Regions from separate parts of the Homo sapiens genome. Here region 2 is linked to region 1. Evidence: fine-mapped expression QTL. A gene starts in region 1. The other region holds a variant in brackets. All regions are shown on one strand. Distances are between the middles of the regions.

Region 1 (16,046 bases):
GCGCGGACCTGCAGTCCCAGCTACTTAGGAGGCTGAGGTGGGAGGATCGCTTGAGCCAGGGGCTGTCAAGGCTGCAGTGAGCCGTGATCATGCCACTGCACTCCAGCCAGGGCAACAAGAGTGATACCCTATCTCAAACAAAACAAAACACACTACCGCCAGGCGCAGTGGTGCATGCCTGTAATCCCAGCACTTTGGGAGGCTGAGGCAGATGGATCACCTGAGGTCAGGAGTTCGAGACCAGCCTGACCAACATGGTGAAACCCCTAATAAATCTCTACTAAATACAAAAAATTAGCCAGGTGTGGTGGCGCATGCCTGTAATCCCAGATACTTGGGAGGCTGAGGCAGGAGAATCGCTTGAACCCAGGAGGTGGAGGTTGCAGTGAGCCAAGATCACACCATTGCACTCCGTCCTGGGCAACAAAAGCAAAACTCCATCTAAAAAAAAAAAAAAAAGATACTGGAGATACTGGCAAACTTTCCAAAGTGACTGTACCATTTTGCATTTCTACCTGCAATGTATGAGTCATTCTGTTTTTCCACCTCCTCACCAGCATTTGGTGTTGTCACTGATTTTTTTTGTTTTTGGGTTTTTTTGGCCATTCTGATTGGTAGTGATATCTCGTTGTGGTTTTAATTTGCATTCTCTGATGGCTAATGGTGTTGAACATCTCTTCATCTGCTTACTTGCCATTTGTATTACATATATCCTCTCCAATGAAATCTCTTTTCCTGCCATTTGCTCATGTTCTAATTGGATTGTTTTTTGACAGCTGAATTTTAAGAATTCTTTCTTTATATATGCTACCTATTAGTGCTTTGTCAGATATGTGGTTTGCAAATTCTTTCTCCCACTTTATAGCTGTCTGTTCCTCCTCTTAACTGGCCCTTTCACAGAGCAAAAGTTTTAAATTCTAATGTTCAATTTATCGATTGTTCCACTTATAGATCATGCTATTATTGGTGCCAAGTCTAAGAATTCTGTCTGGCCCTAGATCCTGCAAATTTTCTCCTCTTTCATTCTAAGTTTTTTTTTTTTTTCTGGCTTTTTTTGCTGTTGTTTGTTTTTGAGACAGAGTCTCACTCTGTCACCCAGGCTATAGTGCAGTGGCACTATCTCGGCTCGCTGCAACCCCTGCTTCCCAGGTTCAAGCGATTCTCATGCCTCTCAGTCTCCCAAGGAGCTGGGATTACAGGCGCCCGTCACCATGCCCGGCTAATTTTTGTATTTTTAGTAGAGATCGGGTTTCTCCATGTTGGCCAGGCTGGTCTTGAACTCCTGGCCTCAAGTGATCCACCCATCTCAGCCTCCCGAGATTGTAATCTCGGGATTACTTGTAATCCAAGTGCTAGGATTACAGGCGTGAGCCACCGCGCTTGGCCTTAATTCTAAAAGTTTTATAGTTTTAGGTTTAAGTTCATGATACACGTTGAGTTAATTTTTGGATAACATGTGAGACATAGGTCAAGGGTTTTTTGTTTTGGTTTGGTTTTTGTTTGCCTACAGATGTTCAATTGCTCCAGCACCATTTGTTAAAAATGGTGTGTTTTTCCTCTACTGAATTACTTTTGTACCTCTGTCAAAATTCAGTTGGGCATATTTGAGTGAGTCTTTTTCTGGGTTCTCTATTCTGTTCCATTGGTCTATGTGTCTATCCTCCACCAACACCAGTCTTGATTACTGCAGTCGTAAAAAATAAGTCTTGAAAGCAGGTAAAGAGATTCCTCCCACTTTATTTTTCCTTTCCAAAATTGTTCTAGCTATTCTAGTTCCTTTGCCTTTTAATGTAAATTTTAGAATAGGCCCGGCTCAGTGGCTCATGCCTATAATCCCAGCACTTCGGGAGGTGGAGGCAGGCAGATCACCTGAGGTCAGGAGTTTGAGACCAGCCCGGCCAACATGGTGAAACCCCATCTCTACTAAAAAAATACAAAAATTGGCTGGGCGCGGTGGCTCACGCCTGTAATTTCAGTACTTTCGGAGGCTGAGGCGGGCAGATCACCTGAGGTAAGGAGTTTGAGACCAGCCTGACCAATATGGTGAAATCCCGTCTCTACTAAAAATACAAAAATTAGCTGGGCATGGTGGCAGGCGCCTGTAGTCCCAGGCGTGGTGGTGGGCACCTGTAGTCCCAGCTACTCAGAAGGGTGAGACAAGAGAATTGCTTGAACCTGGGAGGCAGAGGTTGCAGTGAGCCAAGATCATGCCACTGCACTCCAGCCTGGGCGACAGAATGAGACTCCGTCTCAAAAAAAAAAAAAAAAAATTAGCCAGGCGTGGTGGTAGGTGCCTGTAATCCCAGCTACTTGGGAGGCTGAGGCAGGAGAATCACTTGAACCTGGGAGGTGGAGGTTGCAGTGAACCGAGATCCCACCACTCCACTTCAGCCTGGGTGACAGAGCGAGACTCTGTCTCAAAAAAGAAAAAAATAAAATAATCATCTTGTCTATAAATAAAAAAAAAACTTACTGGGATTTTGATAGGAATTTTGTTAAACTGTATATCAATTTGGTGAAAACTGACATCTTTACAATATTGAATCTTCCAACCCATGAACACCGTATGTCTATTTATTGTAAAAAAATGTGTAGACCAGGTATGGTAGCTCATGCATGTCATCTCAGCACTTTGGGAGGCTGAGGAGCGATGATTGCTTGAGGCCAAGAGTTGGAGACCAGCCTGGGAAACTTGGTGAGACACATCTCTACAAAAAATACCAAAAAATTAGCTGGGCATGGTGACACACGCCTATAGTCCCAGCTACTCGGAATGCTGAAGGAAGAGGATTGCTTGAGCCCAGGAGTCCAAGGTTGCAGGGAGCTGAGATCACACCACTGCACTCCAGACTGGGCAACAAAGGGAGCTTGTGTCTCAAAAATATACATATATTTTTTATTTCTCTTATCAGTGTTGTGTAGTTTTCAGCACACAAGTCTGAAGTATGTTTTGTTAGATTTACACCTAACTATTTCACTTTTTGGATGATTAGAAGTGGCATATTCCTTTCAATTTCAGTGTCCACATATTCTTAGCTAGTATATACAAATACAATTGATTTTGGTATGTTTATCATGTATTCTGTAACCTTGCTGAACTCATTTAGTTGTAAGAGTTTTGCTAGATTCCTTGAGATTTTCTACATAAACCATGTGTCATCTAAAAATGGGACAGTTTTATTTCCTCCTTTCCAACCTGTATGCCTTTTACTTCCCTTTTTTTTTTTTTGAGACAGAGTCTCAATCTGCCACCCAGGCTGGAGTGCAATGGTGCGATCTGGGCTCACTGCAACCTCCGGCTCCCTGGTTCAAGCGATTCTCCTGCCTCAGCCTCCCGAGTAGCTGGGATTACAGGTGTACACCACCACATCTGGCTAATTTTTGTATTTTTGGTAGAGACGGGGTTTCACCATGTTGGCCAGGCTGGTCTGGAACTCCTGATCTCAGGTGATCCACCCGCCTCAGCCTCCCAAAGTGCTAGGATTACAGGCGTAAGCCACTGCGCCTGGCTACTTCCTTTTTTTTTTTTTTTTTTTTTTTTGGTCTTGTCCCACTGGCTAGAAGTTCTAGTGCTATAATAAATAACAGTGAAAGAGTGATGAGGCCTTTCTTGCCTTGTTCCCAATTTTAGGAGAAAGTATTCAGCATTTCACCATTAAGTACACTTGTCCCTTGATGTCCATGGGGGATTGGCTCCAGGATCCCCCACGTATACCAAAATCCCAGGATCTTCAAGTCCCTGAGATAAAATGGTGTAGTATTTGCATATAACCTAGGCATACCTTCCTGCATCCTTTAAATTATCTCTAGATTACTTATAATACAATGTAAATGCTATGTAAATAGTTGACGTACCATATAGTCTAGATAGGAAATAATGACAAGGAAAAAAAGGCTGTACATGTTCAGTACAAACACAACATCCTTATTGGGTTTTTTCCCCCAAGTATTTTTGATCCCTTGTTGGTTGAATCCACAGATACAGAGGACCAGAGGTATAACATCGGCGGGTTTTTGTACCTGCTCCTTATCACATTGAAGAAGTTCCCCTTCTACTTCTGTTTTTCTGAGAATTTATATCATGAATGGATGTTTAATTTTGCAAATGTTTTGTGTGCACCTATTGATATAATCATGTGATTTTTCTTCTTGAGCCCATTAATATGGAAGAATCCATTGATTTATTTTGAAATATTGAACCAGCCTTGCATCCCTGGAAAAAACCCCACTTGGCCATGGTGAATAATCATTTTTATATTTGCTAATATTTTGTCCCATTAACAAAAATTTTAAAAATGTTTGTAGCTATCATTTGCTAATATTTTGTTGCGGATTTTTGTGTGTATATTCATGACAGTTATTATTTCTGTAGTTTTCTTTTTTGTACTCTGTCTGGTTTTGTTATCAGAGTAAAACTAGCTTCATAAAATTATAGATGATCCTCAACTTTTTGTTTTTTCCTTTGAGACAAGTTCTGGGTCTGCCCAGGCTGGAGTGCAGTAGCACGATCTCAGCTCACTACAGTTTCCACCTCCCATGCTCACGCTTGTAATACCAGCACTTTGGGAGGCCAAGGCAGGTGTATCACTTAAGGTCAGTAGTTCGACACCAGCCTGGGCAACATGGCAAAACCCCGCCTCTACTAAAAATACAAAAATTAGCCAGGCATGGTGGCATGTGCCTGCAGTCCCAGCTACTCAGGAGACTGAGGCACAAGAATCACTTGAAGCCGGGAGGCAGAGTTTGCAGTGAGCCGAGATCACACCACTGCACTCCAGCCAGGGCAACAGAGTGAGATTCTGTCTCAAAAAAAAAAAAAAAAGTTATAGGGCTATTCAAATTATTTCATCTTGGATGACTTGTGGTAACTTGTTTTTGAGGAAGTGATCAATTTTGCCTAAGTCATTAGATTTTTTTTTCTTTTTTTTTTGAAACAGGGTCTCACTCTGTTACCCAGCTGTAGTGCAGTGGTGCAATCATGGCTCACTGCAGCCTCGACCTCCTAGGCTCAAGAGATCCTCCCACCTCAGCCTCCCATGTAGCTGAGACCACAGGTGTGTGGCACCATGCTGGGCTAATTTTTTTTTATTTTTTGTGAGGCAGGGTCTCACTATGTTGCCCAGACCAGTCAACTCCTATGTTCAAGCAATCCTCCCACTTCGGCCTCCCAAAGTGCTGGGATTACAGGTGTGGGCCACTGCACCTGGCTTGGACTTATCTATTTCTACTTTTAGGTCTGTCAGTTTTCACTTCACATGTTTTGCAGTGCTGTTTTTTAGTGCATACATATTTAGGATTGCTATGTCTTCTTAGTGGATTGACTCTTTTAGCATCGTATAATGTCCCGCTCTTTCTACGTTAATTTTCTTTGCTCCAAAGTCCACTTTAGTTTATTTTAGTATAGTCACTCTTGCTTTCCTTTGATGAATGCTTGTATGACACAACTTTTTTCATCCTTTTACTTGCAACTTGCCTATATCATATCTGTAGTGAATTTGTTGCAGATAACATACAACTGGTTTTTTTTAAAATCCACTCTGCCAATTTCTTTTAATTGGCATATTTAGACCATCTGCATTTAATGCAATTGTTGATATGTTAGGGCTGAAGTCTGTCATTTTATTTTTTTCTATTTTTCTAATCAGCTTCCTCAGGTTGAAGTGATTATTTTATTTTTGAGACAAGGTATCACTCTATCACTTACACTAGAGTATAGTGCCGAAATCGCAGCTCACGGCAGTCTTGACATTGGTGGGCTCAAGTCATCCTCCTGCCTCAGCCTCCCAAGTAGTTAAGAATACAGTTGTGCACCACCACACTCATGTTTGTGTGTGTGTGTCTGTGTGTGTGTGTGTGTGTGTGTGTGTGTGTATTGTTTGTAGAGATGAGGTCTCATTATGTTGCCAAGGCTGGTCTCGAACTCCTGGGCTCAAGGGATCCTCTTGCCTTGGCCTCCCAAAGTGCTGGGATTACAGATGCGAGCCAGCGTGCCCCACCTCATTTTATTTTTTGTTTTCTGCTTGTTCTCTGTTTTTCTGCCTTTCTGTGTTAAACATTTTTTACAATTCCATTTTATCTATAGTGTTTCTCTTCTGAGTGTGTCTCTTTGTATAGCTTTTTAAGTGATGGCTCATATATACATGACTTATGACAGTCTACTAATGTCATCATTTTACCAGTTTGAGAGAAATATAAAAACCTTACCTCCCTCTGTGTCCCTTCACCATTCCCAGTTTATACGATAATTGTTTGAAATATTTTCTCCATATAGATTTAGGACTATATTAGATAATGCTATAATTTTTTTTTTTGGAGACAGAGTCTCGCTCTGTCACCCAGGCTGGAGTGCAGTGGCACAATCTCAGCACATTGCAACCTCTGCCTCTCGGGTACCTGGGATTATAGGCATGTGCCACTATGCAAAGCTAATTTTTTTTTTTTTTTTTTTTTTTTTAGCAGAGACGGGGTTTCACCTTGTTGGCCAGGATGGTCTCGAATTCCTTTTTTTTTTTTTTTTTTTTTGAGACGGAGTCTCGCTCTGTCACCCAGGCTAGAGTGCAGTGGTGCGATCTCAGCTCACTGCAAGCTCTGCCTCCCGGGTTCACGCCATTCTCCTGCCTCAGCCTCCCGAGTAGCTGGGACTACAGGTGCCCGCCACCACACTCAGCTAATTTTTTTGTATTTTTAGTAGAGATGGGGTTTCATCGTGTTAGCCAGGATGGTCTCGATCTCCTGACCTCGTGATCCACCCGCCTCGGCCTCCCAAAGTGCTGGGATTACAGGCGTGAGCCACCGCGCCCGGCCTCGAATTCCTGACCTCAGGTGATCTGCCTGCCTTGGCCTCCCAAGGTGCTGGGATTACAGGCATGAGCCACTGCGCCCGACCTAAAGTAAAAATTATAGCATTCCCAGCACTTTGGGAGGCCGAGGTGGGCAGATCATGAGGTCAAGAGATTGAGACCATCTTGGCTAACACAGTGAAACCCCATCTCTACTAAAAATACAAAAAATTAGCCAGGCGTGGTGTCAAGTACCTGTAGTCCCAGCTTCTTGGGAGGCTGAGGCATGAGAATTGCTTGAACCCGGGAGGTGGAGGTTGTAGTGAGCCGAGATGGCCCCACTGCACTCCAGCCTGGGCAGCAGAGCAAGACTCTGTCTCCAAAATGAATTTTTACTTCAACTGTCATACATAATTTAGAAAACTCAAAAGGATAAGAAAAGCTTATTGCATTTGCCCATATTTTTACTTTCGTGTTTGTTTTTTCTAATTTTCCAAGGTCCTTGTTTTATTGTTTTCTTTCTTTTTAGAGAACTTCCATTAGCCCTTTCTTGGGGAAGGCCTACTGGTGACAAATTCTCTTAGTTTTCCTTCTGAGAATGTCTTGATTCCCCCTTGATTCCTGAAGGACATTTTCACTACATATAGCATTCTGAGTTGACAGGTGTTTTTTTGTATTCGCTTTTTGCATGAAAAACATTTTGCCACTTCTGCTGGCTTCTGTGGTTTGCAGTGAGAAATCTGCCATTCAAATGATTTTTCGTCTTTAGGTAAGGTGTTTTCTCTGGCTGCTGTCAAGATTTCTTCTCTCTTTAGTTTTCAGAAGTTTAATTGTGATGTGTTGTGGCATGGATTTCTATGGGTGTATTCTGTGTAGTGTTTGCTCAGCTTCTTGAATCTATAGATTTTTCTTGCCAAAGTTGGCAAGTATCCAGCCATTATTTTACCCATTACCTTTTCAACCTGGCCCTCTTTATTCTCTCCTCCTGGAACCCTGAGGACAGAAATAGTAGATCTTTTGTAGTATTTCCACAGGTCCACAGGCTCTGTTTTTAATTTTGTTTTCAGTCTATTTTTATTTTCTCTTTCTTGTTCAGATCAGGTAATTTCTATTGTTTTTTTGTTTGTTTGTTTGTTTTTTGGAGACAGTCTCACTCCATTGCCCAAGCTAGATTGCAGTGGTGCGATCTCAGCTCACTGCAACATCCATCTCCCAGGTTCAAGTGATTTTCCTGCCTCAGCCTCCTGAGTAGCTGGGAATACAGGCACGCACCACCACACCTGGCTAATTTTTTGTACTTTTAGTAGGGACAGGGTTTCACCATGTTGCCCAGGCTGGTCTCGAACTCCCGAGCTCAGACAATCCACCTGCCTCAGCTTCCCAAAGTGCTGGGATTAGAGGTGTGAGCCACCACGCCCAGCCTTATTTCTACTGTTCTATCCTCCAGTTCAGTTATTTTTTTTTCTTCTGTCACTTCCATGTCTTTTTTTCCTCCCAGCTTCTGTTGGGAAAAATGTCACTTCCATTCTGTTATTGATCCCATCCACTGAGAGTTTTTAAATTCAGTTATTTGCATTTTTCAGTTCTAAGACTTTTGTTCTTTTTTTTTTTTTTTGAGACAGAGTCTTTCTCTGTTGCCCAGGTTGGAGTGCAGTGGCACGATCTCAGCTCACTGCAACCTCTGCCTCCTGGGTTCAAGCGATTCTCCTGCCTCAGCCTCCCAAGTAGCTGGGATTACAGGCGCGAACCACGACACCTGGCTAATTTTTTATATTTTTGGTAGAGATGAGGTTTCACCATGTTGGTCAGGCTGGTCTTGAACTCCTGACCTCAAGTGATCTGCCCGCTTTGGCCTTCCAAAGTGCTGGGATTACAGGCGCAAGCCACCCTTCCTGGAGGATACCTGAACTAAAAATACAAAAACTTACCCAGGCGTTGGTGGCGGGTGCCTATAATCCCAGCTACAGGAGAGGCTGCAGAAGGAGAATCGCTTGAATCCAGGAGTTGGAGGCTGCAGTGAGCTGAGATTACACCACTGCACTCCAGCCTGGGCAAGAGAGCAAGACCATACAAAAGAAAAAAAATAATAACCTTCAATGCCTTCCCATAAGATCTGTAATAAAATCCCTGCATGCTCTGGCCCCTGCCTGCCTCTCTGACATCTCTTACTACTTTCTGCTTGCTCAGTAAGCTCCAAATTTATTTACTCAACACATAATGAGCACATACAATGTACCAGTTTTTGTTACCAATAAACAAATCAAAATTCCCTTTTCTTGCTGAGGACATACAAAAAACAATAATCCTAATACACAAGTAAATGTCAAAATATGTTTGTTTGTTAGGAGATAGGGTCTTGCTCTGTCACTCAGGCTGGAGTGCAGTGGTGCAATTTCAGCTCACTGCAGCCTCGAATTCCCAGGTTCAAGGGATTCTCCCACCTCCTTAGCTTCCTGAGTAGCTGGGACCACATGCCCAACTTAGAAAAAATATGTTAGAAGGTACATGTAAATTGGATGGGGAAGTAGATCATGTAGGACCATTTAAAGGACTTCAGCTTAAATGTCACTCTTCACAGAAGTCTTATTTAATCACCCAATTTACTGTTGCCTCCTTCTCCCCTCAATCTCATTACCTTGTTTTCTTCACAACACTTATTGATACCTGAGACTGTTTTTTTTTTTTTGAGACAGAGTTTCACTCTGTCACTCAGGCTGGAGTGCAATGGCACAATCTTGGCTCACTGCAACTGTCACGTCCCGGGTTCAAGCAATTCTCCTGCCTCAGCCTCCCAAGTAGCTGGGATTACAGGTGCAAGCCACCACACCCGGCTAAATTTTGTATTTTGAGTAGAGATGGGGTTTTGCCATGTTGGCTGGGCTGGTCTTGAACTCCTGACCTCAGGTAATCCACCCACCTCGGCCTCCCAAAGTGCTGGGATTACAGGCATGAGCCACCATGCCCGGCCAGAGACTTTTTTCAATGCAGCATTTTTTACTAATTTATTATGAGATAGGGTCTCGCTCTGTCACCCAGGCTGGTATGCAGTGGCGCCATCTCAGCTCACTGCAACCTCCATGTATGGGCTCAGGTAATCCTCCCCCCTCAGCCTCCAGAGTAGCTGGGACTAAAGGCATGTGCCACCACGCCTAGCTTACTTTTGTATTTTTTGTAGAGACGTTTCACCATGTTGGCCAGGCTGGTCTGGAATTCCTGGACTCAAGTGATCCGGCTGCCTTGGCCTCCCAAAGTGCTGGGATTACAGACCTAAGCCACCCCGCCTGGCGGATACGTGAAACTTTTTTTTTTTTTTTTGAGATAAACTCTCACTTTGTTGCCCAGGCTGGAGGCACGATCTTGGCTCACTGCTACCTCCACCTCCCGGGTTCAATCCATTCTCCTGCCTCAGCCTCCTGAGTAGCTGGGACTACAGGTACCCGCCACCACGCCCGGCTAATTTTTTTGTATTTTTAGTAGAGACAGGGTTTCACCATGTTGGCCAGGCTGGTCTCTAACTCCTGACCTTAGGTGATTCTCCCACCTCGGCCTCCCAAAGTGCTGGGATTACAGGCTAGAGCCACCTCGACTGGCCCTGAGACTTCTTGATGTATTTATTTGTTGACTTGCATATTATTCCCTAACTAGGGGTTTATTTGACTCTGTTATTATGTCTCTTCTGTTTAAAACAGAACCTGGTAAATATCAATACTTTTATTGAATGATTGATAAATATGTCTTCAAGACCTTAATTTACAATGGGTTTCTAGTATTCCTGTCAGGGCCTGTAGGCACACAACAAATTAACAACAGAAATTTTAACAAAGTCATTAAAACTTGGGCTAAGAAAAACTTTGTAGGGTTCTTGTAGCCCTTTAAGGTCTCACACAATTTTTCTTTCCAAGTCTGGATAAAGCTGTGGTGGTCTTTTCCCGGATCTGTTGTTGCTGTTTATAACTAACAAACAAATCTCAGTTCTTTCTCTTTTATTATTTTTTTTGGGGGGGAACGGAGTCTCGCTCTGTCACCCAGGCTGGAGTAGAGTGGCTCGATCTCGGCTCACTGCCACCTCCACCTCCCGGGTTCAAGAGATTCTCCTGCCTCAGCCTCCTGAGTAGCTGGGACTACAGGCGCGTGCCACCACACCCAGCTAATTTTTGTATTTTTAGTAGGGACGGGGTTTCGTCATGTTGGCCAGGCTGGTCTCAAACTCCTGACCTCAGGTAATCCACCTGCCTCGGCCTCCCAAAGTGGCTCCCAGGCGTGAGCCACCGCGCCCAGCCTATTCTTTCTCTTTAGCAATAGAGTCAGCACGCTCCATTACCCGCCAGTTATCTTTTAAGAGAAAATACAAGGCTTCAAATGCACCTGTACGACATCTAAGAGTGCTCTGGCAGAGTCACACCTCTGCAAGGTTAGAGATGTCAAAGGGAGTCCTGGTCTAGCCAGAAATGGGAGAGTGACAAAGTACAGGTGCTTGGGTCGGGTGGGATGGCTCACTCCTGTGATCCCAGCACTTTGGGAGGCCGAAGTGGGAGGATCACTTGGGCCCAGGAGTTCGAGACCAGCCTAGGCAACATAGTGAGACCTTGTCTCTATTTTTTAAAAAAATTAAAAAAGAAAAAAAAAAAAAGCGGCTCTAGCACTTTGGGAGGCCGAGGCAGGCGGATCACCTGAGGTCAGGAGTTCGGGACCAGCCTGGCTAACGTGGTGAAACCCCGTTTCTACTAAAAATACAAAAAATTAGCCGGGCGTGGTGGCGGGCGCCTGTAATCTCAGCTACTCGGGAGGCTGAGGCAGGAGAATCGCTTGAATCCTGGAGGCGGAGGTTGCAGTGGGCCGAAATCGCGCCATTACACTCCAGCCTGGGCAACAAGAGTTAAAAAAGAATGCCTCACAAAAATTCAAGAAATACAGCGACTGCAGATGGGTCGGTTTCACTACAGCACAAGCAGCGGAAAAAGGACACAGATCGGGGAGAAATCACCCTACAAAGATGACAACTGAGGAATGCGGAGTGGGGACTGACACACGTTACGGTGAAACCGTGCACCACGACCAAAGGCGGTCCTAGGACTGCGACTATGTGGGCGCAGAGGCCACCCCCCAGGCTTGGCGGGCGAGTAAAGGCAGGGCTGGGGGCCTGCTCAGTGTGGCCTTAGGGAGGAACTTCGGGGGTCTCCTCTCTCCCCATCGAATCCCTGAGCAGTTCCCGAACAGAAATCGGAGACCAGACGGTGCCTGGGCCCCAGCCCTCCCACGGGGACTGCACCTTGGGCCTGGCTCGGAAGCGGGTCAGAGTCTGCGAAAGACCAGCGAGGACTCTTGGGTTTCGGGGCAGGCCGCGGGCGCCCACCCACGCCAGCACCGGGAGCCGCGCGGCGACTCGGCGAGCCCGGCAGGCAGGACAGGACTGCGGCGCAGGTCTGGCTCAGGCGGAGGAAGCAGCCGCCGCCCCAGCTGACGGAGTGCGGCCGGGGGCTTCCCAGAGGAGGCGGCGACGTCGAGCCCTTTCGAACGTTTCCACCCGGCTAGCTCACGTAGCCTCGGCCCCGCCCGGCCCCGCCCGGCCCCGCCCCACCCACTCCGGCCACCGCCCCCTCCCCGGCCTACAGTTCGCGGGTGGGGCGACCTGCGACAGCCCCTTTAAGAGGCGTGGTCACGTGCTCCGCCCCCACCTCCGCCTCGCGCGCCAGTAAGGGGTGGGGTGCGGGAGGAGGTGCCGGGGAGGTGGGGGGAGCGAAGTGTGCGCTGCTGCGCAGGCGCGGTGGTCGGACGACAGACCGTGTGTTTCCAAAATGGCGGCAGCGATGGATGTGGATACCCCGAGCGGCACCAACAGCGGCGCGGGCAAGAAGCGCTTTGAAGTGAAAAAGGTTGGGTCTCGCCAGCGCCTTCCTCAGGGAAGCTAGAGAGGCGCGGATCTGGCTGGCAGGCCCGAGGATGGTCGAGGCGCGGAGTAAAGGGTTTCATTTCAGGGCGTTCCTGGGACCGGGTACCACGAAAGGAAGCCGGGGGGCGGGTCTTAGAGTTGATCGGCGTGACGGCGGCCCACTGTTGGGGGAAGTGTTGGTTTCGCTGTGAGGCTAAGGGGCCAATCACAGAGCTGCTTATTGAGATACGCGGGGTTGCGACTTGGCGGCGGGAGCCAAGCGCTTGAGCTGTCACTGGAGTGGTTGAGAGGTGGGGGAAGGACAGGGTAGGGTGGGGTGGGGTGGGTGGAATGGGGAGTCGAAGCGAATGCGGCGGTGGAGGATGGGGCAGTGCGGCGAGAGCCTGGAACCTGAGGTCCTACCGCATTAGAGGCCTCTGAGGACCCCCCTTGGTGATCTTGCTCCGCCCCTTTTTGAAGCTTGGGGTCCTCTCACTTGGAGGGGTCCTCTCACTTGGAGGGATCCTCGCTGAACCGAGGCCTCACACTGCCTGGTTAGAGTCTGGAGTGTAATGCTTGGCTCTTCTGAGACGTCTGTTGGCTTTTCACACAACCACCCCACTCTTGGGTTCTCTGTCACGTCCAGAATCTCCCCCTTCCAAAATAATAATAAAAAGCATGGTGGAACTTGTTAAGAAAATCCGAGCCCAAATCCTGTGGCAGTTAGGGAGGGTTGAGTACTAGTCGCGAACGACTTGGTAAGCGTGGGAAAGCAAAAATGGAACGTGTCTTTTTGCATGAAATGCCTTTTAGTGGTTTGCCACAGTTTGGGAGAACAGTATCGATTCTCACCTAACATGAAAGCTGTTCAAAATGGAGATTCTAAAATAGGGAAGATATTCCTAGAACATCTGGCTAAACACTGACAATATCCCCCGTCCTAGTGCTTTTTGGTGTCTCATTGTGGCCACTGCTGCTCAGTTACAGCCAGCAGCCATATTGAAAAATAATAGAAGTAGGGGCTTTTCCTCCACCTTGAAGCTGTGATGTGAAAAGTGGTAAAGAAGTTACTAGGCACTGAGAATGGGGTTTGAAAGCGAAGAAGGTTTGGGAGTATTTGTAATTGAGGAAGCCAGAGTTGAATGAATGAAATTCTGTTAAACTCTTACTGGAATTATTATCTTAATAGAAGAGTCTAAACATATAAAAGTTGAGAACATCAGTTTATTTTATGGTAAGAATCAAAATTCTAGTGAATTGTAGAATTTGTTATGAAGTAATCTAAGATTTAAGTGATGACCTTGTTCTGTGTACTGACACGGGTATTTAATTATCCAGCTTATCCCATGATTACCCATTTTATGATCCAGTCATTATCTTAGTTCATTCTGTTCTCTAGCTTTCACTTCATTGCTCATGCTTCCAGAGCTGTGTAGAGCAGATACTTATTCAGATTTTGAGCTCTTCTGCAACTGCCACCAAAACCTGCACAGAAATTCAAGTTTGTGCCCTTTTTTTTTTTTTTTTTTTTTTTTTGAGATGGAGTCTCACTCTGTCGCCCAGGCTGGAGTGCAGTGGCACGATCTTGGCTCACTGCAACCTCCGTCCCCCAGATTCAAGCGATTCTCCTGCCTCAGCTTCCCAAACAGCTGGTATTATAGACACCCGCCACCAGGCCTGGCTAATTTTTGTATTTTTAGTAAAGATAGGATTTTGCCATGTTGGCCAGGCTGGTCTTGAACTCCTGACCTCAGTGATCGGCCCGCCTCGGCCTCCCAAAATGCTAGGACTATAGGCGTGAGCCACTGCACCCGGCCAGACTAAATTATTTTAAACTATAGGAAACAAATTAAAAGATGACATTAATTTCTGTGTTCATATACTCAGCCTTTTGGAGAATAGAACATACGTGTAGTCTACTGTTGTCTTTGGTATAATAAGATTAACGTAATATCCAAAAACTTTTGTTTGGTGGTTCCCTGTGGCCAAAGAGATGATAACTGCAGCTGCAGCCTGAGGTCCTAAAGAGTATGTGTGTGTGTTACAAGCAGAATGCACTGTTCCCTCTTTTTGTCTTTGCAGTGGAATGCAGTAGCCCTCTGGGCCTGGGATATTGTGGTTGATAACTGTGCCATCTGCAGGAACCACATTATGGATCTTTGTAAGTAATTGGAGGAGGATGGGAGGAAGTTGAGAAGGTTGCAGAGATTGTGGCTATCTTGATGTGACTGATTTTCTTCTTCACACGAGGAGATAGCAAGCCTACTCTGAGCACTCGGTCTTCTGTATCTAGTCTGTTGGTGTGTTTGAAATAGAGTAGTTTTTTTATGATGTCCTGGAGGCATACCCAGCTCTCAGAATAAATCTACTCAATCTAAAGATGGCAGGGACACATTTAGAATTAATTGTGGACGACAGGCACTGTTGATTTTTCCTGCATATCTTCCATCTTGTACCTAGACTCAAAGGTAGAAATAGTGAAAGGAGGAAAATAAACTTTGAGCTAAAATATTCTGAGGCCAAGCGCAGTGGCTCATGCTTGTAATCCCAGCACTTTGGGAGGCCAAGGCGGGCAGATCATTTGAGGCCAGGAGTTGACCAACCTGGCCAACATGGTGAAACCCTGTCTCTACTAAAAATACAAAAATTAGCTGGGCGTACTGGTGCATGTCTGTAATCCCAGCTACTTGGCAGGCTGAGGCAGGAGAATTGCTTGAACCTGGGAGGCAGAGGTGGCAGTGAGCCGAGATCACACCACTGCACTACAACCTGGGCGACACAGCAAGACTCAAAGTCTCAAAAAAAAAAAAAAGTCTATCTGATCTAATTTTTGCTGGTCATTGTTTACAAAGGAAAGAAGCGTTAAGGAGTGAGGATTTTGTATGTTAGGCCCAAACATAATAAAAAGGAAATCATTGCCAACATCTAAATAAATAATTAATTGCACTAAAGAAATTTCATTTAAATCTCCACATATTTTATTACATGTAGTGGTCAGCACATAGTGATCTGATTATAGTCTTTGATGAACTGATTTCCTGTCCTTACAGTAGAAGGGACAAGAATGTTGATCACACCAGGAACAGTTGAGGTTACTTTTTCATCCGGGAACTAAAATGATTTGTTACTGAGGCCAGAAATGGAGGAAAGAAACTTTAAGTTTCTAGAAATGGAATTATAGGAACTTATTTTTCAGATCACTCACCTGCCTTTACAACTTTGTCTTGAGTCACTCCTGCTCACTCTGTTAGTTTACCTGGATGCTTTTTTTTTTTTTTAACTGACCACGGTGGCCAAAGCAGCCATGGCCCCGGCCAGTTTTCCATTTTTTTTCCTTATTCTGAGATGGAGTCGCCCAGGTTGGAGTGCAGTGGCGTGATCTCAGCTCACTGCAACCT
Region 2 (16,046 bases), 76 kb before region 1:
CCACATAGTGATCTAATATGGTAGCCACTGGCCATGTTGATGGACATTTTGGTTGTTGCCAGTTGGGGCTGTTGGACATAAAGCTAGCACTTATTTCAAGTACAGTGGGAAGCCTTTGTGGGGAGTGGGGAATATGCAAGTTTAATGATGTGATTTACATTTGTAATGGATCAGTGGCTACTATTTGGAAATTCAGTCATGTATGGGAAAGTAGAATTCGAGAGCCAAATTAGAAACAGACCAAAGGTGATTTTCTTTGGGGATAAACTACCAGTAGTCTAGACCCGAATTTAAAGGTCTTATATTCTATACCTGGCTCATTTTATTGTCTGAGAAAATTCCCTGTAATCTTTGTTTTTCCTCCTCTATGTTGTGTTTATTTTATTTTCCATCACATTTATAACCCCTCAGTTAAATGATACGCTAATGAAATCTAAAACTGTAGTGTATGCTTCTAGTCTTTCAAGACCATTTGTCAGGTCTGAATATTTTTTTGCTTTGCATTTTTATATATACTCATTTTTTAGAGGTATTGTGAAATGCTTAAAACTCAATTTAAATTCTCTCCAGTGTATGTGCTTACATGTACTTATGTGTGGCTTACCCATGATTATAATTTGCCTACCACTGGAAATAATAACCAATAATGTCGAAAATTATTTGAGTACCCTCTGAGTCACACTGTAGCAAGTGCTCATTTAACTGACACAGCACTCTAGCAAAATAAATATTTTATGCCCATAAGAAAACAGACGTTCTGAGAGAGAAAGTAATTTGTCTAAGGCTACATAGCTTGTTAGTGAAAAATCTGATTTTTAAACTTGAGTCTAATTTCAAGTTCTCATTCCACTCTACTGCATTTCTCGGACTAGGACTTAAAGAGTTTAGGTTCTAGGCATTCCACAAACAGATACTGAGAACCTGCTGTTACCGGAAAGGGGTCCCAATCCAGACCCCAAGAGATGGTTCTTGGATCTCGTGCAAGAAAGAATTTCAGTGGAATCCACAGAGTAAAGTAAAAGCAAGTTTATTAAGAAAGTAAAGGAATAAAGAATGGCTACTCCATAGGCAGAGCAGCCCCAAGGGCTGCTGGTTGCCCATTTTTATGGTTATTTCTTGATTATATCCTAAACAGGAAGTGGATTATTCATGCTTCCCCATTTCAGACCATATAGGGTAACTTCCTGACGTTGCCATGGCATCTGTAAACTCTTGGGGTGCTGGTGGGAGTGTAGCAGTGAGGACAATCAGAGGTTACTGTCATTGCCATCTTAGTTTTAGTGGGGTTTGGCCAGCTCCTTTTTTTAAGAACATCACAGGTAAAGCTCACAGGAAGGTGACAGTCTAGGAGAAGATGTTCGCAGTGTCTAAATTTGACAGGGACTTATTTTATTTTCATTATTATTGTTACTATTATTATTATTTGAGGTGGAGTTTCGCTCTTATTGCCCAGGCTGGAGTGCAATGGTGGGGTCTTGGCTCACTGCAACATCTACCTCCCGGGTTCAAGCCATTCTCCTGCCTCAGCCCGCTGAGTAGCTGGGATTACAGGCATGCACCACCACGCCCGGCTAATTTTGTATTTTTAGTAGAGAGGGGGTTTCTCCATGTTGGTCAGGCTGATCTCGAACTCCCAACCTCAGGTGATCTGCCCGCCTCAGCCTCCCAAAGCGCTGGGATTACAGGCATGAGCCACCGCACCCAGCTGGTCAGCTTCTTTACTATAACCTACCTGTTTTATTAGCAGGGTTTTTGTGTCCTGCATTTTGTGCTGACTTCCTATTTCATTCTGTGATTAAGACTGCCTTAACTTACTGGGAATGTAGCCCAGTAGGTCTTAGCCTTATTTTACCAAACCCCTACTGAAGATGGAGTTGCTCTGGTTCAAACGCCTCTGACACTATGATACAGAGAAAAGGTAGAAAATAGGAAATTCTGCTCTTAAGAAATTCATATAGTTTGAAAAAACTAATTTCAGTGGAGTGTAAAGTTATAATACGAGCACTTGTTTCTGCAGTTATACCCTTCTTTGTTGATCCTTTGCCTCCCAGCCATCCGCTGTGCCATTTTCTCTGCCTCTTCACAACAAAACTTATCCAGAGTATTGTCTCAGTGTCTTTGCTTTCTTACATCCTATTCCCTCCTTGGCATACTCCAATCTGTCTTCTGTCTTCTTTACTCTGCTAAAATCGCCAGGGTCTCCAGTGATTGATGTTACCATATCCAGTGGTTGTCCTTTTGGCTTCCTTGTATTTTGAAGCACTTGCCACACTGTGAGCCCTCCTCACTTTTTTTTTTTTTTTTTTTTGAGATGGAGTTTCACTCTCGTTGCCCAGGCTAGAGTACAGTGGTGTGATCTCGGCTCACTGCAACCTCTACTTCCCAGGTTCAAGCCATTCTCCTGCTTCAGCCTCCCGAGTAGCTGGGATTACAGGCATGTGCCACCATGCCTGGCTAATTTTGTATTTTTAGTAGAGACAGGGTTTCTCCATGTTGGTCAGGCTGGTCTCGAACTCCCGACCTCAGGTGATCCACTTGCCTCGGCCTCCCAAAGTGCTGGGATTACAGGTGTGAGCCACTGCGCCTGGCATAGTCCTCCCCACTTCTTAAAACACTTGTTTTTTAACTTCCTAAATACCACACTCTTTTTTTGTGGGGGGCGGGGGGGCAGCGGGTAGAGACAGGGTTTAGCCATGTTGGCCAGGCTGGTCCCGAACTCCTGGCCTCAAGTGATCTGTCTGCCTGCCTCGGCCTCCCAAAGTGCTGGGATTACAAGCATGAGCCACCATGCCCAGCACTAAATACTGTACTCTTCTAGTTTTCCTTCTTTCTCCTGTGCTCTTTCTCACACTAAAATATTACAGTGCCAGGCTTTGTTCAGTCTCCCTGGGTAATACCCATTCCCAGGGCTTTAGATGCCATCTGTGTGCTTATAACACCCTAATTTATATATCTAGCCTAGCACTTTTCTCCCTGAAATTAAGATTGCTCTTTGACCTCTCCATTAAATTTATTTCCAATAAATATCTCAGGCTTTCCTGTTGCATGTAGTGGTACAACCATTTATTCACTTGTTCAAGTCAAAAATCAAGAATTATTCTTAATTCCTCTTTTTTCTTTATTTCTTATGTCCAATTAGAAGCCAGACTCATTGACTTTTAACTTCAAAATACATTTCAAATCAAGTCACTGGGAAAATAAAGTCAAATAACAAGTGATCTCTGCTTCCAAAGATTGTTCATAGTAGACTGGCAAACTAATTAGCAATTATGTGAAGTGTAGTAGGTATTAAAATAGAAATCATAGGAGCGTTGGGGAAGACATCTGAAACAAGCAGAACAGAGGCAGTAGGTGTGAGAAGAGTAAGAGAAGTCTCTTGCGTAAGTGATGTTTGAGCTGGTATTTTTTAGAATTTCTGTAATCGTATAAGCAGGCAGTGTCCACTTTAGACTAAGAGAACTATATTTTTTAATGCAAATGCTATTATGATGCAGAATGATTTAGCCGGGGTTCTTCAAGTAGCTTAGTGTGGCTGCAATAATGTTTTTTGAGGATTAGGTCAGATAAGGGAGCAGGATCCAAATCATGAAGTTTCCTAAGCAAAAGAGTTTGAAGCTTATGAACTGGATATTTTTGAAATAGGACTTAACACACCAGCTTTGCTACTAATTATATGACTTCGGGCAAAAGATGTTTAATGTAAGTAAAAAGCTATTGAGACCTTTTTTAAAAATTTACTGGGAATAAACATCTTAATTTATGTCTCCTGTTAAAGTGTTACTTGTTTGCTTTGAATTTAATAAAGTTAAGCTCCCTCTGCTTGAGAGTGGTCCAAAATATGCTAGGATTATTTCATATGAGCATTGAAAAAGGAATCAGTTAACTTTTTATATTCTGAAATTTTACTGCCTAATGAGATTACAGAAGACACTATGTGTGCATGAGTACGTGTGCACGAGCGTGCATGTGGAGAAGGTGCAGGAGGAGAGAAAGAGAAATCACCAATGCAACAGCAGCCTACTCCACCAGTGGGTTAGTGCTGCTGGAGGGAGATGAAAAGATTAGGAAGGTAAGATAGCTTTGAAGGCTTTGTATTCTAAATTAAGGAGTTAGATTTTTAACTGTCACGTGAGGTAGGCATTATCATCATTATTTTACAAACACAGAATCAGACTCAGAGAAGTAATCTGGACAAGGTTACACACTTAGTACCAGAGAAGCTGAGATTCAAACTCAGGTTTATTTGACTTCATAATCTTTGCTCTTATCCCTCCCCCTTGCCGCTCACTAGGTCCTCTCTGTTTAATCTCAACAATCAATACTGTACAATCTCCTTGTGAACATACAATTTCTGTAAGGACTATGAATTATGAATAATAATATATGTATTTGGGAGAGAAGAGTCTTAAAAGTTAATTCCAGTTTGTAGAAGATTGTTTAGAAAAATCATAGCTTCTTCTAAAAAGATTTAAAAAAAAGAAAAATCATAGCTTCTAAGATGATTACAAAGAAATTGGTGTGGGTTTCCAACCTGGGCAACATAGTGAGACCTCATCTCTACCAAAAATAAAAAAAATTAACCAGTCTTGGTGGCACATACCTGTAGTCCCAGCTACTTGGGAGGCTGAGCCACTGACTCCAGCCTGGGCAACAGAGTGAGACTCTGTCTTAAAAATAAATAAATGAATAAATATTGAAGGAGAGAAGGAAGGAAATATTAGTTTGCATTTTTCTAAAGCATCCAAACTGTTGGAGATGGATAAGTGCATTTATACCATGAAGACTTTCTAGATCTATTGTTTCATTTCATTTATTGCCTAAGCCCAGAGGAACAAAGCTGCAGTGAGCTATGATCATGCCACTACACTCCAGCCTGGGCGACAGAGTGAGACCTGTCTCAAAAAAAAAAAAAAAAAACCCAACAAACAAAACTCCTTATGTGTGAATCCACTGTTGCATTCACCATTTAATATTGTAATGCTCTATTTTGTCTCACCTCCACTAGACTGTGCATTCTTTAAAGACCACAGCATATAGCCTTGTCATTCATGTGTCTTTCTTTGAGCATGTTCCAATCATGTGCAAAGAATTTTTTAATTAATGCTAATAACTAACATTTGTTGTACTCTATGATTAAGCATTTTTCATAAATTATTTTATCTAGCTCTGACATTCCAAGATTAAATGAGATAGCATGTGCATATTTTCTCATGCTTAACATATTCTCAATAAAAAATGTTGATTATCTTTTCCTGAGTTTTAGGACACAGCTTTATGCTATCTCTGTGATACCCTTTCAAACTGCCTCTGTGATATCCTTCCCCTGCCTTTTTTGGTTCCTTTCTTCTGTTTTCATAGCTCCTTATTCATACCTTTATTATATATGTGTG[C/CGT]GTGTGTGTGTGTGTGTGTGTGTGTGTATGTGTATAAAATATTATAGCAGACAAATGTCTCTGAGGGTAAAGATCTCATTTCTGTTTTCCTAAGGCCCAACACAGAGTCTGACACAGAGCAAAGGCCATATAAATATTGAAGGAGGGCCAGGTGCAGTGGCTCATGCCTGTAATCCCAACACTTTGGGAGGCCGAGGTGGGCGGATCACTTGAGGTCAAGAGTTCGAGACCAGCCTGGCCAACAGGATTAAACCCCGTCTCTACAAAAATTAGCCAGACATGGTGGCACGCACCTGTAATCCCAGCTATGTAGGAGGCTTGAGGCAGGAGAATCACTTGAACCCAGGAGGTGGAGGTTGCAGTGAGCCGAGATCATGCCACTGACTCCAGCCTGGGTGACAGAGTGAGACTCTGTCTTAAAAAAAAAATAAATGAATATTGAAGGAGAGAAGGAAGGAAATATTAGTTTGCATTTTTCTAAAGCATCTAAACTGCTAGAGATAAGTGTATTTATACCATGAAGACTTTCTAGATCTATTGTTTCATTTCATTCTCTTTATTCTTCATTCAGGATGTATGTTGTGTTCACAGCGAAGGTACTCCCTTCAGCCTGTCCCAGAAAGGAGGATTCCAAACCGATACTTAGGCCAGCCCAGCCCCTTTACACACCCACACCTCCTCAGACCAGGTAAGGCCTTTTAACTGTGCTATCTCCCCATTTAGGTTCTGTCTAGAGCAATGCTATGCAATAGAACTTCTTGCAGTAAGCTCTGGATCTGTGCTGTTCCATAAGGTAGCCACTAACCTCACATGGCCATTTTACACTAATAAGGTTGCTAGTACAGCTGAGGAGCTGAACTTTTTATTTTATTTAATTTTAATTAATTTAAATTTAAGCTTAACTACATGTGGGTACTGGTGCTTTATTGACAATACTAGTCTAGAACAAGGTTTAAATATGATAGACCTTATAATTCAGAATAATTAATGAAAGGTATGTATTTCAGGATGTTTTTAAAGCAAAGTTCTATTTCTAAGTCAGCTTTTAGAATTGTATACTATTGTGAATTACTGTGTTAAAGACATTTTAGAAAACATGTTTTTTCTTGAAATTATCAAATATTTACTTTAAAATTATAACCTATTTCTATATAGATTAAGCAAGATTTCCAGATTTGTTTGTCACAGATTTGAGAGGTAGTATCCCAGTTGATAAAGGTGATGCAAAAAAATGATAAAGGTTTGTTTTACTAATTTTTTTTTCTGCTATAAGATCCCAGCGTTGCTGCCAGAAGATGTCTTATAACTATTGCTCAAATTTAGACCTAAAGGTTTTTTGTTTTGATTTCTTGCACTTAAGGGGTGAACTATGACTAATGAATATCTCAGAGAGGAAGGTAGGGTAAAAGCAAACACATTGTAGAAAAAGCAATCAGGTTTTCAAGGAAAATTAATTGTTCTTTCTGCCATAAGAAATTAAATATGTATTTGCCATATAAGCATATATATTACTAATGGAAATTTACCTTTAGAAATATGTTCCTTTTTCACTATCCCCACTCAGTGAATGATACCAGTATGTTTCTCAGTGAGGGCTTCCTTTTGCTGATTTTTCATCAGACTCGAATTCCTGCTGGGAAGTCGGCTGAAACTAAGGAAATGCAGCTCACCACTGAAACCCACAAGAAATCAGAGTTTTTCAAAGCTGTAAGGTAAGCTTAATAGCAACCCAGTTGGTATTAATTTTAGTATTTATCTACCCTATCAACCTACCTGTAGACTCGAGTTATTTTTTTAAGTAGAATTGATAGTTTTACCAGCTTTGAAAATTACTGATTTCTTGTGGTGAGATATTTTTACATGGTAAGCTGCATTTTCCAGGCCTTAAACCTAGTAATTATATTGTCAAGATAATGGCCTCTGTATCTAGATTTTTTTGCTCTATACCTTAAGTGCATGTTAAGTATAAGTGAATGTAAATAAATATGTACACGTATATGTTCACATACATATGTATGTGAATATCTGGGGGAAAAGGGATGCCTGTCCTAATTTTACTCTCCTAGACGTGGGATTTTGGACATTGGGGTAAGTGAGAAGGGATGGAAGTAGATGGAATTTTAAAACAGAATTATTAGTATTTTAAACCTCAAACTATCAGATGTACCATTAGGTACAGATTTTTCTGCAGACAAAAGTATCAAAAGAATTAATCATTTGTGTTTCTCCTTCCAGAGATGCAAAACTTGTGGAAGTGTTAAAGTGATTGTAGGGTGAAGCAGAGTAAATTTTTAAGAAAAATTAAAAGGGGCCGGGCGCAGTGGCTCATACATGTAATCCCAGAACTTTGGGAGGCCAAGGTGGGTGGATCACCTGAGGCCAGGAGTTTGAGACCAGCCTAACCAATATGGTGAAATCCTGTCTCTACTAAAAATACCCCCCAAAAAAAAAATTAGCCGGGTGTGGTGGCATATGCCTATAATCTCAGCTACTGGGGAGGCTGAGGCAGGAGAATCACCTGAATCTGGGAGGCGGAGGTTGCAGTGAGCCAGAATTGTGCCACTGCACTCCAGCTTGGGGGACAGAGGGAGACTCTGTCTCAAAAAAAAAGGAAAAAAAATTTAAAGGCATGTAATACTTAAAAAGTCTCTTAGGCCAGGTACAGTGGCTCACGCCTATAATCCCAACACTTTGGAAAGACAAGATGAGAGGATCACTTGAGGTTAGGAGTTCGAGACGAGCATAGGCAACATAGCAAGACCCTGTCTCTATAAGAAATAAAAAAAATTAGTGCTCCTGCCTATAGTCTCAGCTACTCGGGGGACTCAGGTGGGAGGATTGCATGAGCCCAGGAGGTCAAGGATGCAGTGAGCTGTGATCATGCCTCTGCACTCCATCTTGGGTGACAGAATGAGACCGTGTCTCTCTCTCTCAAAAAAAGTCTCTTACGCAGTTGGCTTGTTAGTTTAGGATATAAAATTATGTAATGTGCACTTGGTTTCTCCAAAAGGTTTCATGTTTTGCATATTTCTCTAATACATGGCAGTATGTACTTAATACTTTTGGGAAACATCTCAATGCCTTTCCTAATTATTACGCAAGTTCTATACATACAGAAAAAGAGAATACAGGTAAGCATAGATTTTTTTTTTAATTACTAATAATCCCACAACTCAGAGAAAGCCACTGTTGAGAGGATTTTGGTATATGTTTCTTTTTAGTCCTATTTCTTACATAGGTGTATGTGTGTATAAGTGTACATGTGTACACATTCTTTGCATATTGCTCTATTATTTCCTTAAATTCTTAGAAGTGAAATTACTGGGGCCAGGCGCGGTGGCTCACACCTGTAATCCCAGCACTTTGGGAGGCTGAGGTGGATGGATCACGAGGTCAGGAGTTCGAGACCAGCCTGGCCAACATAGTGAAATCCCGTCTCTACTAAAAATAGAAAAATTAGCTGGGCATGGTGGCGCATGCCTGTAGTCCCAGCTATTCAGGAGGCTGAGGCAGGAGAATCACTTGAACCTGGGAGGCAGAGGTTGCAGTGAGCTGAGATCACGCCATTGCACTCCAGCTTGGGCAACAGAGTGAGACTTTGTCTCAAAAACAAAAACAAAAGTGAAATTACTGGGCCAGTTCCTCTGAATTCTTGGGAGCTATTTTTCCTAGATTTTTCTTTGCCATACCTACCTATCCAAGTTTCCTGAAGCATCAATAGCTTGGAAAATATTTAGCAGGATGATACAGGAAATAAAGAAATTCTGTTCTGGCTGTGCTAGGTTCTGTGATTTTACGGCTAGGTTCTAGTGATTTTCAAAACTTGTCATTTCCTTAGAGAAATCTGAGCACTGTAGACCATTTCTGCTTTTTATGACAGTGCCATCTCTGTGCTAAGGTCTGTATCGGTAGAGATGGAAAATGTTGGTCAGTCTCTTTGATTACTACCTTGTCTCACACTTGACACTCAGACATGAAAATGATTCCATGTAGGAAGGCAAGTGGCATTCTGAACTGTGAGTCTACTTTTTTTTTTTTTTGAGACGGAATTTCGCTCTTGTCGCCCAGGCTGGAGTGCAATGACACAATCTCTGCTCACTGCAACCTCTGCCTCCCGGGTTAAAGCAGTTCTGCTGCCTCAGCCTCCCAAGTAGCTGGGATTACAGGCGCCTGCTACCACATCCGGCTAATTTTTGTATTTTTAGTAGAAATGGGGTTTCACCATGTTGGCCAGGCTAGTCTCGAACTCCTGACCTCAGGTGATCCACCCGCCTCAGCCTCCCAAAGTGCTGGGATTACAGGTGTGAGCCACCACACCCAGCGATATTTACAGATTGTACAGATTATATTATATTATCTGTACAAGAAAGATGCTTCCATGGTTCCCTGATTATTGCCAAAGGAGTAATGTTGTCATTAGCAGGACAGCAAGACATTCATCTCAAAAAAACACTGAAACATATCAGAGAATGAACGGGAAGAATCAGTGGAATTCCTAATGAAGCATTATTTCTAAAATTTTTACATTCTTAAAATTAGTTTTAGAATATGTGGTATAGTTTGGAATGCTAGGTTTAAAAAGGGCTACTCAGGGAGTTGGGCTTGTCAGAATAACTTGTCTGACATATGTAGAACCACTTCATGGTTGTTTTCTTTTTCTTTTTCTTTTTCTTTTTTTTTTTTTTTTTTTTTTTTTGAGACAGAGTCTCGCTCTGTCGCCCAGGCTGGAGTGCAGTGGCGTGATCCGGCTCACTGCAACCTCCGCCTCCCAGATTCAAGCAATTCTCCTGCCTCAGCCTCCAGAGTAGCTGGGACTACACGTGTGCGCCACCACACCTGGCTAATTTTTGTATTTTTAGTAGAGAGGGGGTTTCACCATATTGGTCAGGCTGGTTTTGAACTCCTGACCTTGTGATCTGCCTGCCTTGGCCTCCCAAAGTGCTGGGATTACATGCGTGAGCCACCATGCCTGGCCCACTTCTTGGTTTTCAACTACAGCAGCAAACAGATTTTTAGGGAAATAATCAGAATGCAACTGTGTGGCATGAAATATAAGACGATGCTTTCACCATTTACCGTTTCATCTCTATCGTCAACTATAATGGCAGAAGCCAGGTGCGGTGGCTCACGCCTATAATCCCAGCACTTTGGGAGGCCTGGGCAACGTAGTGAGACCTTATCTCTGCAAAAAAGTAAGCAAAATTAGCTGAGTGTGTTGACAGATGTCTGTAGTCCTAGCTACGCCTATAATCCCAGCACTTTGGGAAGCTGAAGTAGGAGGATTGTTTGAGCCTGGGAAGTCAAGGCTGCAGTCAGCTGAGATTGTGCCACTCCACTTCAGCCTAGGCAACCGAGCAAGACCGTCTCAAAAATAAAATAAAATAGAAATAAAATAAATAAATAAATATAATGGCAGAGACAGTACAGTTACAGTGAATATAATATTTAAAATGATGAAATGATTGATTCTAGAGTGGGTTATAGATAATAATCCCCAAATCTTTTTCCCTTAAGAGTTTCAAAATCAGCTGCCCATCTTTCAGTGATAGTTTAATTGTAGCCGTCTCTTGAGCAAGGGATGCATTTTATTTTTAAAACTTGTTAAATATGGTTGATTTTAATAATATCTAAAAGACAAAGCTTATTTTGGTGGTGGTAAGATTTTTATACTATTTAAAAGATTAAAATGATGCTTGATAACAACTTTGGGGAGTTAGGAAGAAAAATAAAAAATAAATAAAATGATGCTTGAGACCAGGAGGTCAAGGCCGTAGTGAGCCATGATTGCGCCACTGCACTCTAGCCTGGGTGACAGAGTGTTACCCTATCTCAGAAGAATTTAAAAAATTAAAAGGAATCAAGAAATAACAGAAATTGGAAGTGGTTTGAACCTGCCTAGACTGTTGGGTAAGCTTTTTCAAAATATACATACGTGCTAGGACTCTATAAATAGAGTTGTTGAATGAGAATCTCAAAGGGAGGGCTTAGAACATGTGTTTTTGTTTTTGTTTTTTTTGAGACAGGGTCTCACTCTGTTTCCAAGGTTGGAGTACAGTGCCGAGATCATGGCTCACTGGAGTCTTGACCTCCGGGGGTCAAACAATCTTCCTGTCTCAACCTCCTGAATAGCTGGGACTACAGGCATGCACCATCATGCCCAGCTAATTTTTATATTTTTTATAGAGATAAGGTCTCACTATGTTGCCCAGGCTGGTCTTGAACTCCTGGACTCAAGCAATTCTACCACCTTGGCCCCCCAAAGTGCTGGAATTATAGGCATGAGCCACCATACCCAACCGGAACATGTGTTTTGAAGAGCTCCCCGGGCGTTTCTCACATACACCACTAACCTAGTGGGTACTCATTTAGCTAGGTGCATGAGATGCCTGATGACTTAAGGGGACAAGCCAGTTCTGTGGCCATTGGTCATGTTTTAAAGCAGAGAATGTGCCTTCCACATGCCTCTGTAGTCTCATCCCCAGTCACTCAGTCCTTAAATTCATTCACATCTTTATCATCATCACCACCATCAATAAGTGATGACGTTACATTTATCTAACCATTTCAACACTTTTTTAATAGATTATACCTGATAGAATAGTAGACTAAAAGTTTTGTATCCTACAGGTTTTAAATTTAAGTTGAAGGTCTACTTTTTCTATAAGTACTTCACCATGAAGCCCACCTGTTTTATAAAGTAATATATTTTATTTTCTCACCCCAATGTACCTATGTAATTTTATTTGTTTTTGTTTTTGCTTTTTTTGAGATGGGGTCTTGCTCTGTCTCCCAGGCTAAACTGCAGCGGCATGATCATATCTCACTGCAGTCTCGACCTCCCAAGCGATCCTCCCACTTCAGTTTCCCAAGTAGCTAGGACTACAGGCATAAGCCACCATGCCTGGCTAATTTTTTAAATTTTTGTAGAGATGGGATCTCACTTTGTTGCCAGGGCTTACTTATATAATTTTTTTAAATCACTGTATTCATAGTGATTAAATGTTTCCTCTTGTCTTCATCTCCTGATTCAATTTTAATGCAGAATAAATAATGTAGTCTCTATGTAAATAAATTTATAGATGAATAAACCTGTTTTTTACTTACATGTCTAGTACATATTGATAGACCATTTCAGGATGCCATTATACCAATAATCTGTAAACCACCATCTAGTGAAGAATTATAGAGGATTTCCCTGTTTGTTTGTTTGTTTGTTTTTAAGCCCTAGGGAGAAATAGAAAATCTTGAAATATAATAAAGTTTTCATGTAGTATAAATACTAGAAAATTAAAAATAAATGACTTGGCTGGGCACGGTGTCTCACACCTATAATCCCAGCACTTTGGGAGGCCAAGGTGGGCCGATTGCTTGAGGCGTGGAGTTTGAGAACAGCCTGGCCAACGTAGCAAACTCCACCTCTACTAAAAAAAAAAAAAAAAAAAATTAGCCAGGCATGGTGGTGCATGCTTGTAATCCCAGCTACTCAGGAGACTGAGGCATGAGAATCACTTGAACCCAGGAGTCAGAGGTTGCAGTGAGCTAAGATTGCGCCACTGTGCTCCAGCCTAGGCAACAGAGCAAGACTCTGTCTCAAAAAATAAATAAATAAATGACATTTGTATTTCTCTTTTTTACCTTTGTGTGTAGTCCTCATTGACACTGAGAAACTCTCTGAGGTAAAGATTAGCAAGAATCAGCCCTAGACAAGAATTAGGAGCTACCTAAAGAAATGAATAATAATGAAAAGTTTCTAAATGGTCAATGGAGATTCATTCCTAACATGTGAAAAAGCCAAAGACTTCCAGGTCTTCTATGTAAATAATTATTTTGATTTCATTTGTTGTCATAATAGCGGTTGTCCATGTAAATTTTACTCTTCTAAGATCCTGCCTGGCTTTGGATTCCCGGGTGACAACCAGTTCAAGTGTAAATTTTTTATTTTGGTAATAATTATAGCTAATACTTATGTAGTGCTAAGTGTTACGTTTTAAGTGTTTTATTACTTAAATCCACTTAGGTGGATTATTGTATAATCCACATAACAACTTTGTGAAGTCAGTGCTATTGTTATTTCCATTTTACATGAGGAAACTGAGGCACAGAGAAGTTTGGTAGCTCTTTCCAAACTTAGTGAATTGCTAAGCCAGGATTCCAACTCACAAAAACCTAACTCAGAATCCACACTTTCAACCACAAAACAGTGCATAATACCTATGCCAAACATAATACCTGTGTCACTCAGTGAATTGCTAAGCCAGGATTCCAACTCACAAAAACCTAACTCAGAATCCACACTTTCAACCACAAAACAGTGTATAATACCTATGCCAAAAAATACTATCTGGTAATATTTTTTAAAGTATTTTCTCCTTACATTTTTTATAAGACATCCATCTGAGAGAAGTCTTAGTATAAAAGTTATTTCAAGTTTGGAGAGTAGTATACTTTTTTTAAATCAGGTAAAATTTATATGCAGCGAATTTCACAGATCTTACATATGCAGTTCAGTGAGCTTTAACAAAGGTAACCTACAGCTCAGTCAAGATACAGAACATTTCCATCGTCCTGGAAAGTTCCCTCATGCTCCTCCAGTCAGTCTCCACCTTCATAGGCAGCCACTCTTTTGGTTTCTGTCATCATAGACTGTTTTGCCTTTTCTTGACTTTGTGTAAGTAGAATCATACAGAATCATAATATGTATATGTAGCCTTTCTGTTTGTTTAGTTTTGCTCAATATATGCAAATCTATTTAGAGTATTTTTTATTCAGTCATTGCATTTTTTCTGAGAGGCCTGTTTTACATTATAAAGGAAACACTAGCTTTTTCTTTCACCCCATTCTCCAACTGCACAGTAATAGTTTATTAATTACTTCCTTATATGCTGCGAAAACTACCTAATATTAAGCAGACTTCTTTTCAAAATCAGACCATGTTAAAATTCTAATCTAGTTAGTTTCAGGAAATAATTAAAAATACAAACCTAGATTGTAGTAGAGACCTGTATCATTTCATCCATTTTCAGTCTTTGTTATATCTTCCTTTCTGGGTGTTTTGTGTAGCTGGTAAAATATGAAGAACATTATTGCTTTTCTCTTCGAGAGGCATGATCTTAAGTGTCCTGGAAGAGCTTTCCTTCTTGGCTGCAGAATCTCAGAACTGATAGTGAGACTTTGCAGAGTCCAGCTTCCAATATCTAGGCTTTCGATTGGCTCAATAAACTTGTTAGAAGAGCCTTTCCATCTTAAGTGGTTCCACATCATAAAATGCTGACTTTGTTTTTTAATTCTTTACAGTTTTACCACGTTGCCTGAGGATCTATTGAGATATAGTTTTATCAGAAGAAATTCAGGCCAGATTGACTATAAAGTTGAGTTCTGTGATCAAAGGCCATAACACCTTCCAAGTTTACTCCTAGGGTTTAAAGGTCATTGCTTTAACACATTTTTTTTCCTCCTTCACATGGAAAGGTTTCTTTTTTCTTGAGTAAATTTTTTGTTTCTGGGTACAGTGGCTCACGCCTGTAATCCCAGCATTTTGGGAGGCCGAGGCCGGTGGATCACCTGAGGTCAGGAGTTCAAGACCAGCCTGACCAACATGGTGAAACCCCATCTGTACTAAAAATACAAAATTAGCCGGGCGTGGTGGCACATTCCTGTAATCCCAGCTACTTGGGAACCTGGGGCAGGAGAATTGCTTGAACCTGGGAGGCGGAGGTTGCAGTGAGCCGAGATTGTGCCATTGTACTCCAGCCTGGGCAACAAGAACAAAGCTCTATCTCAAAAAAAAAAAAAAAAATGTGTTGTGATGGAGAGTGCTTTGTTGCGTTGAGATTTTAGAAGTTTAGAAGCATTTACTTAATGATCACTCAATAGTGTTGATAATTAATAGGTTTGGGAAAATATAGCCAGTGTTTTAAATATTTCTCATGTAGTCAATTGTATGAAATTGGATTCAGCAAACATAGGAATACTTTGAAGGGTATAAAAGATGGTTTTTTTGATCCTGCTTTGATTTCCAAATAATTTTCTTGTTTTAGAAGTAACTTCCTGATATGTGTTAATGTATACTGTTACTAATGAAAATGAGAGATAACACATAGTTATTAAAATTATGGATTTTCTTACCTTCTGAAATAAAAAAGAATTGATTTTTAAATTTCTTTCTTTTTTTTTTTTTGAGACGGAATCTTACTCTGTCGCTCAGGCCGGAATGTAGTGGTGTGATCTCAGCTCACTGCAACCTCTGCCTCCTGGGTTTAAGCAATTCTCCTGCCTCACCCTCCCAAGTAGCTGGGACTACAGGTGTGCGCCACCATACCTGGCTAATTTTTTGTATTTTTAGTAGAGACAGGGTTTCATCGTGTTAGCCAGACTGGCCTTGAACTCCTGACCTCAGGTGATCTGCCTGCCTCGGCCTCTCAAAGTGCTAGGATTATAGGCGTGAGCCACTGCACCCAGCTGATTTTTAAATTTCTTTTTATTTTATGGACTATAGCTGTGAAATAGCCAAAAGCAAAGTTCAGGAAAGGAAGAAAATAAGATGAAAAAAAGGAAAGGTCGGATAATTCATCAGTTATAACCAGCCTCTGCTTTTGTAAGAGTATTTACTACTTGAGTAAATTAGGAAATTTTCAATGTTGAGTAACAGTGGCAGAC

Alleles and levels. Positions count from the first base shown, and alleles are read on the strand shown. Sizes are in standard deviations (SD) of each study's normalised expression.
As copies of CGT replace C in region 2, the expression in monocytes after Pam3CSK4 of the gene that starts at base 12,554 in region 1 goes down (moderate effect, 0.71 SD a copy in Quach 2016).

The links. PIP is the estimated chance that this variant, and not a neighbour inherited with it, causes the effect.
Region 2: its variant is fine-mapped to the expression of RBX1 in monocytes after Pam3CSK4 (Quach 2016, PIP 0.95).

The regions. Positions count from the first base shown.
Region 1 is chr22:40,938,825-40,954,870 of GRCh38, forward strand. It overlaps RBX1 (ring-box 1), which reads left to right and starts at 12,554. Exons shown (of 5, transcript NM_014248.4): 1 at 12,554-12,652; 2 at 14,731-14,809. The coding sequence starts at 12,575. RefSeq lists enhancers at 11,516-12,106, 12,621-12,830, 13,286-13,874 and a silencer at 11,991-12,570.
Region 2 is chr22:40,863,038-40,879,083 of GRCh38, forward strand. It overlaps XPNPEP3 (X-prolyl aminopeptidase 3), which reads left to right. Exons shown (of 10, transcript NM_022098.4): 2 at 5,962-6,078. LOC124905124 (a long non-coding RNA gene) reads right to left here and starts at 14,558. Exons shown (of 3, transcript XR_007068111.1): 1 at 14,372-14,558; 2 at 13,026-13,111; 3 at 12,310-12,614. The variant C/CGT (reference allele first, on the strand shown) is at 5,391.